3 linked regions of the Homo sapiens genome follow. The protein of the gene in region 3 interacts with the protein of the main gene of each other region in a pairwise test. Each region holds a gene or a part of one and is shown on either strand. Other genes may lie near its edges. The genes, in order: SH3GL1, HSD17B13 and SCAMP5.

Region 1 (3,651 bases), on a different chromosome or scaffold from region 3:
AGCTATGGGAGGTGACGCTTGTGAATGTCCCTCCTAGCTCAGTCTGAAGCAATCTTTCCATTCAAATGTTCAAACCCTCTCCCTCCTTTCAGGCAAAAAAAAAAAAAAAAAAAAGCCAGCATTCCAGGCAGCTGCCAGCTCTACCCCTAGTTACACTCTCAATCTCACACAGCCCGGCCACAAGATTTATCAGGAAGCCAGTTAGCAGCTTAAGCCTGGAAATAATGTCACCCAAACCCCCAGCACACCAAGGGAACTTCTGAGAGCAGCTCTCGCTAGCGGCATTCTTTCACCCTCCTTAGTCCCCCAGTTCTAGCTGCGCACGGATGCCAGGAGGCTCTTGAGGGAGTGGGTGTCACACAGGCAGAAAGGAGGGAACCAGGGAGATGGGACCATGACGGACGGCTTTTTACTGCTTTCTTCCAGATGATTCAACTTTCCCCAGCTCAGGCCCTCAACCAGTCTATGGCCAGTTCATGACAAGAAGTAAAAACTCACAAACTGCCCACTCAAGCCCAAACCAATTTTGAACAAGTTCCCAAAAGGTTTTGCAGGGAGATGAACTAGCCTGGAACCCACTAAGGTTCTTACCATTATCACCAACGAGAGATCAGAAACTCAGAACCAACAACACAGCCTCGCCTGTTAGAAAGTAAGTTTATCTTTTCCAGCACTCTCTCCCGCATCCTCCCGGCCTCTGTTGATCAATTTAGAAAGGACACCGTAAGAACCCTTGGAAGTCTAGAGCCTGGTTTAAAGCAGGGTTTCTTAAGCTCAACTCTACTGACGTAGGGCTGGAGAATTCTTCCTTTGCAGCGGGGGGAAGCTGTCCTATGCATTGTAGGATGCTTGGCAACCATCCCTGGCCCCTATCCCCTCGATGCCATGAGCATTCTCTCCCAAAGTTGCGATAACAACTGTCTCCGACATTGCCAAGCCAAGGAAGGGGTCTGCGCCATCCCCGGCTGACAGCGCTGATGGGCGCGTGCCCCTCCTTCAGGAGCCCCGATGCCTGTGGCTCTCAACTATTAAATCAAGTTCCAGCAAAGAACTGGAAACCTTTAAGCTGTGTATGGAACCATTGTGTGTAGCACTGGAAACTGTCCCTTTTCTAAGTCACTGTAAATGGTGTTTTTTTTTGGAGACAGGGTCTGGCTCTGTCTCCCAGGCTGGAGTGCAGTGCTACAATCAGGGCTCCCTGCAGCCCTGACCTCCTCAGGTGCAAGCGATAAAGGTTCCTCGTGATCAGCTGGAAGGTACTTTTGAATTAAAGGTTCACACTGAAGAACCTAAGTGGATAGTGGCATTTGAGGCCAGCAGTGAAAGTGTTTCCTCTCAAAGAGTTCCCTACACAGCAGCAGACATGGTTATTCTGAGAGTCATGTATGTTCTGTGTTTCTCTGTGAACCATGTTTCAGTCTTTGTTTCTGTCATCATATGTACGGGAAATTCCATAGAGACTACATCACACAAAACTGACATTGTCAATTACCAGGAAATACAGGTGCTCACCTTTTGAAGGCTTATTCATACATATGGTTGCCACAATACGTATATATGATAAACAGTGTATGTATACATACAAGTTGTTTAGGCCAGGCACGGTGGCTCACACCTGTAATCCCAGCACTTTGGGAGGCTGAGGCGGGCAGATCATGAGGTCAGGAGTTCAACACCAGCCTGACCAACATGGTGAAACCCTGTCTCTACTAAAAATACAAAAAAAATTAGCCGGGTGTGGTGGCGCACCTGTAATCCCAGCTACTCAGGAGGCTGAGGCAAGAGAATCGCTTGAACCCGGGAGGCGGAGGTTGGTCTCAGTAAGCCAAGATTGCGCCACTGCACTCCAGCCTGGGTGACAGAGCAAGACTCTGTCTCAAAATATATATATATATATACAGTTGTCACAATATGTATATGATAAACGGTGTACATATACACATAAAATGTTTATGGTGGATCTAGCTCCCCCCTAAAAAAGAAGCCCAGATACTGAAAGACACTCGAATTTTCCTAAAGACTTGAGGGTGGGCTCGACCTTAGGGTCTGGATGCTGAGTTTTATGTAAATATCTACCTGTGGGGCGGGGTGCCATGGCTCATGCCTGTAATCTCAGCACTTTGGGAGACTGAGGCAGGTAGATCACCCGAGGTCAAGAGTTCGAGACCAGCCTGGCCAACATGGTGAAACCCCGTCTCTACTAAAAATACAAAAAAATTAGCGGGGCATGGTGGTGGGTGCCTGTAATCGCAGCTACTCGGGAGGCTGAGGCAGGAGAATTGCTTGAACAGAGGAGGCGGAGGTTGCAGTGAGCCGAGATCGTGCCATTGTACTCCAGCCTGGGCAACAAGAGAGAAGCTCCGTCTCAAAAACAAACAAACAAACAAAAACAAACTACACATGTGGCTATCTGTGTTTAGCAAACTAGGAAAATCTTTGTTTTATTTTATATTTTACTTTTTTTTTTTTTGAGACGAAGTCTCGCTCTCATCCACCAGGCTGGAGTGCTTCCCAAACTGCTGGGATTAAAGGCGTGAGCCACCACACCTGGCCAAACTAGGAAAATCGTAAGAATGGCTCAGTGGGGATTTTTTTGTTCCTTTGTTTTGGTATAATTATCCTCATTTTTTTTCCAAATCTTCAAGCAGGGTTTCTCAAATTTTGGTACTATTGACATTTGGGGCCAGGTAATTCTTGGGGGCAGTGGGGAGATGCTGCCCTGGGCACCGGAGGATGTCCAGCAATATCGTCTACCTACTAGTAGCCAGCAGCACCGCACCAAGCTGTGACAACCAAAAAGGTCCCAGACATTGTCAATGTCCCCTGGAGGACAGAACTGGCCCTGTTTTACAGGAAGATAAATGTCCCCTAATCCTTTTGTGTAAAAGGGGGAATGTTTTTTACCCTTAGACCGGATAAGCAAGACCAGCTGAGACCTACTGGTATAAAGCATACTGCCTGCTCACATGGTGAGAACTCAATAAATGTTTGTATCACTACGTAATGAGAGATCCCGAGAGATGTCACTTTCCAACAGGCACAGCAGAGGGTGAAAGAGTTGTTATTAGACTAAAAACAAAAAAAGAGACACAAATAGTCGGATACGTCCAGATAACAGCTGAGATGTCAGAGGGAACCATGGCAATGATCACAGAAGAGCATGGAACGCAGCCAGGGTGACTTCTAAGAGCACGACTCAGGACAGAATTGACCAGGAGGCCAAGACGACAGCCCCGAGGGTGGGCTGTGGCCATTGTGCTTTGGGACTAGGCCTCGGGATGTGGAAATAGGCAATCCTAAGCCCAGCTAACACCACACTGTCCTTTCCAGGCTTCAAGGCGCCATTCACAGATCTGAACGCAGGTCATCCTGCTTCCCTTGAGAGAGACAAAGTCCTGGTGGCCGGCACAAGAGGCCTGGTTCATTCCTCTAAAGAGGGTGTCAGCTCAGGACAATATGGGCACAGGCCCTGATCGCTGGGAGTGGGGGTGGTGGCTTCCAGAGACCTGTCTATAGCAGGGAACAAAGTGGCCCAGGAATTCCTCCAAGACCTCTGAGGACATCTTTCCTGCTAGGGAGCAGTACTCTATGGTGCTCTAACCAAGCAGGTGAAGGTCTGACGCCTGCTGGGCAAGGTCTAACCCAGGGCCA
Region 2 (3,651 bases), on a different chromosome or scaffold from region 3:
GTTTGGTGGGCATGGGAGCCAATTCACATATGTGAAGAGCTGGTAAAGGTAAGGGGGACACATCTCTTTTTTTTCTTCTTTCTTCTAGAATCCAGATCTGCCCTAGATTCTACACTAATATTGAGGCACTGGAAGATTAATCATAAAAATTTCTATACAAAGGCAGTTGAAGTTGATATTTCCATCTCCCACAAAACTAACCAATTATATGAGGTCTGTATAGCTGCATTTCTCAGTTCCAGCACCCCATGGATCTAGAACACTTGCCTCAGAGTCTCGTCCAAAAGTGTCCTCGATCCTATATACATCCAAGTAATTACTTCTGATGTCCTTTCCATTCTAAAATTCCACAAAATGAGGACACATTACAAAATCATGGTGTGGAGGGAAAAAAATGAAGTCACAAGTGACAGCATTGAAAAGATGTACACTGACAACCCTTAACAAACCTCCACAAACATTTGTTGAGCTCCTGGTACATGCCAAGCTTTGTGTCAGATACTGGTGGACAAGACAGACCAAGTAGCTTACATTCTGGTGTGTTGTGTCCACTTGAATTCTGTGTCCTTGTGTCAGAGACTCTGTGGCTCTTCTACTCAAACAAATTTAATGATTCTTGATTAAGGCAAAGATCTGGCCAGTTTCCTGTCCAGAAGTATGTGAACTCCGTTATAAGTTTCATGTATCTTAAGAGAAGGTGCACAAATCAGAAATGTTTCTGACTCACACTCACCCAAAAATGTCCTAGGATGTTGACCTCAAATGTCTTGGTAATCTCTTCATCCTTGGTGCTGAGAAGATCGGCTGGATATACTGTCCCAGCATTATTCACCACGATTGTTACATCACCCACTTCTTTCTTCACCTTTTGAAATTGAAAGAACACTTTCACTGGGTGTATTATTCAAACTCAAAGTTTTGGGACCAATATAATCCAAAGATGAGAGTCTTTCTTCTATTGTATGAGGTCTCTCAGAGTTCAGGCAAGACAGACTGTTGAGCTCAAATCGTGGAGGCCAAGGGAACACTGTCATAAAGGTGGGATAAACTGTTCTTTTAACATCTAAATTTCAGTACCCAGCACATCATGTTTTGCAAGTTTATCAGTAAAGTGAAATTAACATTTATGTTGATAAATTCCTATATAAATTCTGACCAAATATTTTTAAAGTGTTCATTTTTTAAAAATGTGTTTTTCTTTAAACTTTTTTTTTTTTTTTTTTTTTTTTTTTTAGAGATAGGGTCTCACTATGTTGCCTGGGCTGGTCTTGAACTCTTGGTCTCATGTGATCCTTCCACCTTGGCCTCACAAAGTGCTGGGATTACATGTGTGAACCACCGCACCTGGTCTAAAGTGCTGGTTGAGAAATCCTGGTTTCATAACCTAATAACTACATGACCTGGGTCTGGCTTAACCTCTCTGAGTCATAATTTGCTTATCTGTAAAATGAAGTTTACAGAGTTATTGTAGGGATTGAATTAAAAAATGTAAAGTTTGTTAGAGTGCTTAGTTCATTGTGATTATTTGGTATTTACTCTTTTAAAATAATTGTGATAATAATTATTAATATTACATTTTCTACAGAAGACTACATTAACACCAAAATAAAATCTCACAAGGGAAATAATTAAAGAGAAGCTGGAATTACTGCAAAGTTAATAGGACTAAAACAAAACTAGGAAGTGATCCATATTCCCTGATGATAAATCTTTTGTCAGTCACTCTGTGCCACTGCTCACACTTCTGATCAGAATGAAATTGATTAATAATATGAACAATAATAATGGGCAGAGCTGAGTGGATTACATACAAGAAAAAAAGTATATATCCTTCCTTGGTGACATAACTACTTCAGTTAGCAGCTAAAATCCAATTTAAATCAGGCAGTCATAAAGACCTTTCTCATTTTCCACGTCAGCGTCCTAGGAAACAAAATAATCTGAAGAAATTTGTGAACCTGCAGTCTCACCTGATTTAGAGAGCGATAGATCTCTTCTCTGTTGCTGCAGTCTACCACATACGCATGCGCAGTGACGCCTAGTTTTCGGCACTCAGCTGCAGTTTCCTCCACACCGCGCTGTAATTAGGAAGAAACAAATTCCGAAAAAAGTGGAGGAGAAGACATTGGAGAAGAAAAATTTTTAGACAATTAACATTCGGCTAGGCGCGGTGGCTCACGCCTGTAATCCCAGCACTTTGGTTGGCCGAGGAGGGCGGATCACGAGGTCAGGAGTTCAAGACCAGCCTGGCCAACATGGTGAAACCCCGTCTCTACTAAAAATACAAAAATTAGCCAGGCCTGATGGTGTGGGCCTGTAATCCCAGCTACTTGGGAGGCTGAGGCAGGATAATTGCTTGAACCTGGGAGGAGGAAGTTGCAGTGAGTGGAGATAGTGCCACTGGACTCCAGCCTGGGCAACAGAGTGAGACTCTGTCTCAAAAAAAAAAAAAAAAAAAATTAACATTCATGTCCAAAATGAACAATTAACATTCATTTTGGACATGAAGATTAGTTAACCTTTTAAAAATTGGCCTCCTGGGTCAGGTGTGGTGGCTCACGCCTGTAATCCCAGCACTTTAGGAGGCCGAGGAGGGTGGATCACTTGAGGTCAGGAGTTTGAGACCAGTCTGGCCAAAATGGTGAAACCCCATCTCTACTAAAAATACAAAAAATTAGCTGGGCGTGGTGGTGGGAGCCTGTAATCCCAGCTACTCGGGAAGTTTAGACAGGAGAATCACTTGAACCCGGGAGGCGGAGGTTGCAGTGAGCTGAAATCATTCCATTGCACTCCAACCTGGGTGACAGAGTGGGACTTCGTCTCAAAATAAAATAAAAATTGGCCTCCTTATTTGTTAGAAAATTTCTTGAGAGTGATTGCCTAGTTGCAATGAGATTACCCCTGGCTTTTCTGCCAGGGAATGCTCATATTAAAACCAAAACAAACAAAACAAAACAAAATCCCTTCATGCTTTTTTCAGCTTTTCCTCTTGGTTGGAGGCTGTACAGTAGGCAGTTTCTCTAAAGCAGGCTACTTTCAAACCTTGAAGAACATTCTTGAAAAACATTGCTCTTCGTGGTGTCATGGAAGATGAATATGGAGAAGAAAGAAAAACTCAACCATTAATTTATCATACATTTGTTGAGCACCAACTATGTAATAGGCAGTAAAGTGCTAAGTAGTAATTCTAAACTAGTGGTAATGGTAAACTGTATGCCTCTGCCCATCATATTTTTCTTGATGATTCTGACTCATCCTCCTAGGAGGGAAGGGAAAGAAGTCTCCTTAAAGAAGAAGGACTTTCATAGGGAGACCATGCTGCTACTCTAGGAGATATAACATTACATTCTTCAGGTGTTTGGGAGTGAGATGGGCAAGGCCACTGGATGGATTTCTCATTTATGTACCAAACTTGCCCATAACCATAGGACATGGAGACAGAGCAATTTACTTTCAGCCTAAATTCAAAGACCTCTTTCCTAAGATAAAATTGCTCTAATGTTTCTTGACTCACATTCTGGAAAATTATAATTCTTTTCAAGTTTTCACCTCAGGTGACTTTTATAGAAAATATTATAAGGTTTTAAAAATTATACTTTTCCGTCTCACAATCTGTAAACTCTTCTCTGTGACAAAGAGGCAAGGATACCT
Region 3 (3,651 bases):
ATAGGAAAGAGATAGACAGACCATGGGCAAGGGAAGATTGCACAGGGAATGTGACATCAGGGAACAGATGAGGGAGGAGGAGGCTGAAGGAGGCGAGGCCTGGAGGGATCAAAAGAGCAAGGGAATATCCCTGGCCTGTACCCACCCTCCCACCCACCACCAAGAGTGCTAAGTACTGTTACTTCCCAGGAAGACTGAAAGTAGAAACAGTTCCAGCTCATAACCCTAGGAAGGGGCCAGTCTTTCTGCTATGCCTCCCCTGGCCCCGTGAGGGGTCCCTGGGCCAGGGTCAGAGGGGCCAGAGGCAAGAGGGGCAGGTGGAGGGTGGGGGTGGGGGCTGGTTTAGCTCTAAACACACATCTAGCACCACAAGAGACCTCCACTGCACACTATTTCACGAGGGGACACAGACACAGCTACTACCGCACGGGACAGCTCCACGTGCAGCCCACAGCTGAGTGCCAAGAGCAGAATCTGAAAGGTGGGGGCTGGGGTACAGACATATACATATATATATATATATAACTCTGGTCCTTTGTACAAAGTAGGGAAGGAGAAAAGGGAAGGGGGAACCCTGCTTGGTAACCACAAATGACGATGTGGCTTGAGCCCCCTGTCCCAATGGCCCCAGCTCTGCCACCTGGTAGGCGTGGCTGGTTCACATCTCATTGGAGTACGTGTAATTGGGGGTGGCGGAATACTGAGTCTGAGGCTGATTCATGGCACCCTGGGCTGCCCCCATGGCTGCGTTCTGGGCTGCCTGCTGCACATGTGGATTCTTCCAGGCCCCTGTGGTCCACTCCTCCTGAGCTTTGCTGAAACTCCCCCCACTTCCCCGGTAAAATTTATGAACCTGTAGGAAAAAGAGCGTAAAGAAGGGTTAATCAAAGAGAAAAGGCAGCCCATCCAGGAAATAGATGGGACCCATCTGTAAAAAAAAAACAGTGCTCCCTCCCCATGAATGCCTCTGTAGGAGAGTCCTGCAGGCCATTCCAGAGTGAGTCCCTTGGAAGACCTCGGGATCCTCTTGCAACTTGGAGGAGGGCTTGTTTCAGAACATGGCCCCTTCCCAAAGCCACCTTCTCACCCTTGAGGGGACCACGTACCATGCTGAGGGCGATGAAGGAAAAGACGGCCATCACTGTGAACATGACAGTGGGAATTAGCATCACCACCGCCGAGCCAATGTTCGTTCCGAAGAAGGAGATGGTAGCAATCCAGCCGCTGCAGGAAGAGGCCAGTGTGGGGCTGCGGGCAGGATAAGAGGTGCCCAGGAGCCCCCCGCTAGAGGAAGGGACCGTCTCATTGCCACAGGGAGGAAACATATCACTGGATGCAGAGGGACCATCTTACTGATACCCAAAGAACCTGTGCCAGTGGCTCAAGAAGACCCCATCCCTGTGGCTCAGAGGTGCTCTTCAGATACAACACTTTCTTCCCCCAGGTTTTCCTATAATCCCTGACACCCCTCAGCCCCCAAGAAACCACTGCCAGGTTCTCCTTCCCTCTGATGCTATGGTTGTACTACTACACTATCCCGAATCCTCTCACTCTCCCAACAACCCATCACTCAGGCCCCATAGGCTAGACAGCTTAGCACACAAAGGTAAGCAAAAGATACACCCACAACGCCACCCCTGCCAGCCCCAGGCCACACCCCTGCCTCTTACCAGACGCCCCAGCCTGGGATGCCCACGGCCTGGATGATGCTGATGACCAACTGAGCCATGAAGGTAAAGAAGAATGCCATGAAACTGAAGGAGCTGTCAGTCCTGCGGCAGAGGAGGTGGCTCCCGTCACCTGGGCAGAGGGCCAGGGCTTCCCTGCCTTCAAGGCCCCCAAGCCCTTCCAAGTTTAAGTGCATAATGGACAGAAGACATTTAAAGGCCTTAATTGAGAGGTCAGAAGGGGTTAGTTCTACCCATACATCTTTGCAAGTTTCCACGTGGTAGACCTGTGTGTTGCAACATTACACAGGGAGGGATTTCCCATGAACAGACCACCCACTGGTACATGGATGGACGGCCTCATTGGCATAGAAATAGATGGCTCCACTGAGGCAGGAATAAATAGTCTCATTGTCAAGGGGATGGACAATGACACCAAGACAGCTAGCTCCACTGGTACATGGATGGATGGTCTCATAGGCTCAGAGATAGAAAGTCTCATTGGAACTAGAATGGACACCCTATTGGCACCAAAACAGTAGCTAATTGGCACTTAGATGGATGGCCTGATTGGCACAAAGAGATTTAAGGCCCCATTAGCATTGAGATGGATATTCTACTGGCACCAAGACAGATAGCCTTGGTACATTGATGAATAGTCACATTGGCACAAAGATTGAAAATGCCATTTGGCACTAGGTAGACACCCACTGGCACCAAGACAGCAAGCCCCACTGATATGTGGATGGGTGTTCCCTTTGGCACACAGTTGGATGACCTCATTGCACATGAACAGTGTCAATGGTACATGGCTGGCTGGTCCCATTGGCACATGGATAGATGGTGTCCTTGGCACCAAGTCGGCTAGCCCCACAGGTACTAGGATGGGCAGCTCCACCAAGACAGGCAGCCCCACAGGCAAAATTTAACATGCAGCTGCCTGAGGAAGGGGATGACAGAAGAAAAAATAGGCCTGGTCTGTCTATATTTCCCCCACCCAAGGGTAGAGTGAGGAGGAAAGAAACTAACTCTCAGCCCTCTCACCTCAACTTGGCACCCCCAGAAAGCCCAGGCCCTACCTAGCAATCTGAGCCAAAGGTGAGCAAGGGAAAGTGAGTTTGGGGGAGGGTAAAAAAAAAAAAAAAGAAGTGAGAAAAGATATGGAGAAGAGACAGGGGAGATGGGCAGAGACGGCTAGGCACTGCGGATAGCACCAACCACTTACTTGAAGGCCTTGTAAATGGGCCGAAACCAGCAGACGTAGGAGCAGGGTGTGAAGAGGATGAGCCAGAGAAAGGCGAGGCCAAAGTTGGTGGCTCCCCCGCCTCCGATCAGCCACGCGAGACAGCCCACCAGGTTCACGGCCAGCGTGACGCTGTTCACTGCAGGCCCAGGAGCACATGCACACATAGAGACAGACACCCAGGCCCATAGAGAGACACATGAGCACCCGGACATGGGCACACACACACCAGTAACGCAACAGAGACCCACAATCAAGCCAGGCCAACAGCGCAGACAAGCACAGAGAGATGCAGACACATTCACAGATTCACACCCACACAAAAGACCCACAACCCGTACCAACAAATACATACAGAGACACAGGAGACACACATACACACGCAGAGGAGTAAAGACTGTAAGAACGCAAGCTGGGAGCTCGAACCAACCCCCACCCCTCAACCCCAGCACCCACTCCTGAGAAATCTGGAGAGCACAGCCTCCAGAACCCAGAGCTTCTGCCCAGCAAGCCCCTTTGAAGGGCCCCAAAGCCTCAGGGTGGTAGAAATGCTCTTGTCCTTGTCAAGAATGGCTTCAGCCCCTGACCCTCCCAGACTCACAGCAATCACCAAGCCCAAGACATGGGAAACCGACCTTACACTTTCTCTTTCGAGATATGGGCATGGAAAGGGAAAAATAAAAGGCCTTGTGGAAACATCTCTTCTAGCCATTGTGCCATCTACCTTGCACTTAAATGGGG

Evidence for each region.
Region 1: the proteins of SCAMP5 (region 3) and SH3GL1 interact in binary tests that used the Homo sapiens proteins (3 or more experiments, as listed by UniProt).
Region 2: the proteins of SCAMP5 (region 3) and HSD17B13 interact in binary tests that used the Homo sapiens proteins (3 or more experiments, as listed by UniProt).

The regions. Positions count from the first base shown.
Region 1 is NC_000019.10:4,394,033-4,397,683, forward strand, and holds part of SH3GL1 (endophilin-A2), read right to left. Parts: intron 1-3,651. UniProt on the Homo sapiens protein: Implicated in endocytosis. May recruit other proteins to membranes with high curvature.
Region 2 is NC_000004.12:87,316,359-87,320,009, forward strand, and holds part of HSD17B13 (17-beta-hydroxysteroid dehydrogenase 13 isoform A precursor), read right to left. Parts: intron 2,079-3,651; coding exon 1,971-2,078; intron 866-1,970; coding exon 734-865; intron 1-733. UniProt on the Homo sapiens protein: Plays a pivotal role in hepatic lipid metabolism. In vitro, it catalyzes the oxidation of a variety of lipid substrates, including 17beta-estradiol, retinol, retinal, and leukotriene B4.
Region 3 is NC_000015.10:75,015,991-75,019,641, reverse strand, and holds part of SCAMP5 (secretory carrier-associated membrane protein 5), read right to left. Parts: intron 3,050-3,651; coding exon 2,893-3,049; intron 1,773-2,892; coding exon 1,671-1,772; intron 1,225-1,670; coding exon 1,107-1,224; intron 854-1,106; coding exon 659-853; 3' UTR 1-658. UniProt on the Homo sapiens protein: Required for the calcium-dependent exocytosis of signal sequence-containing cytokines such as CCL5. Probably acts in cooperation with the SNARE machinery.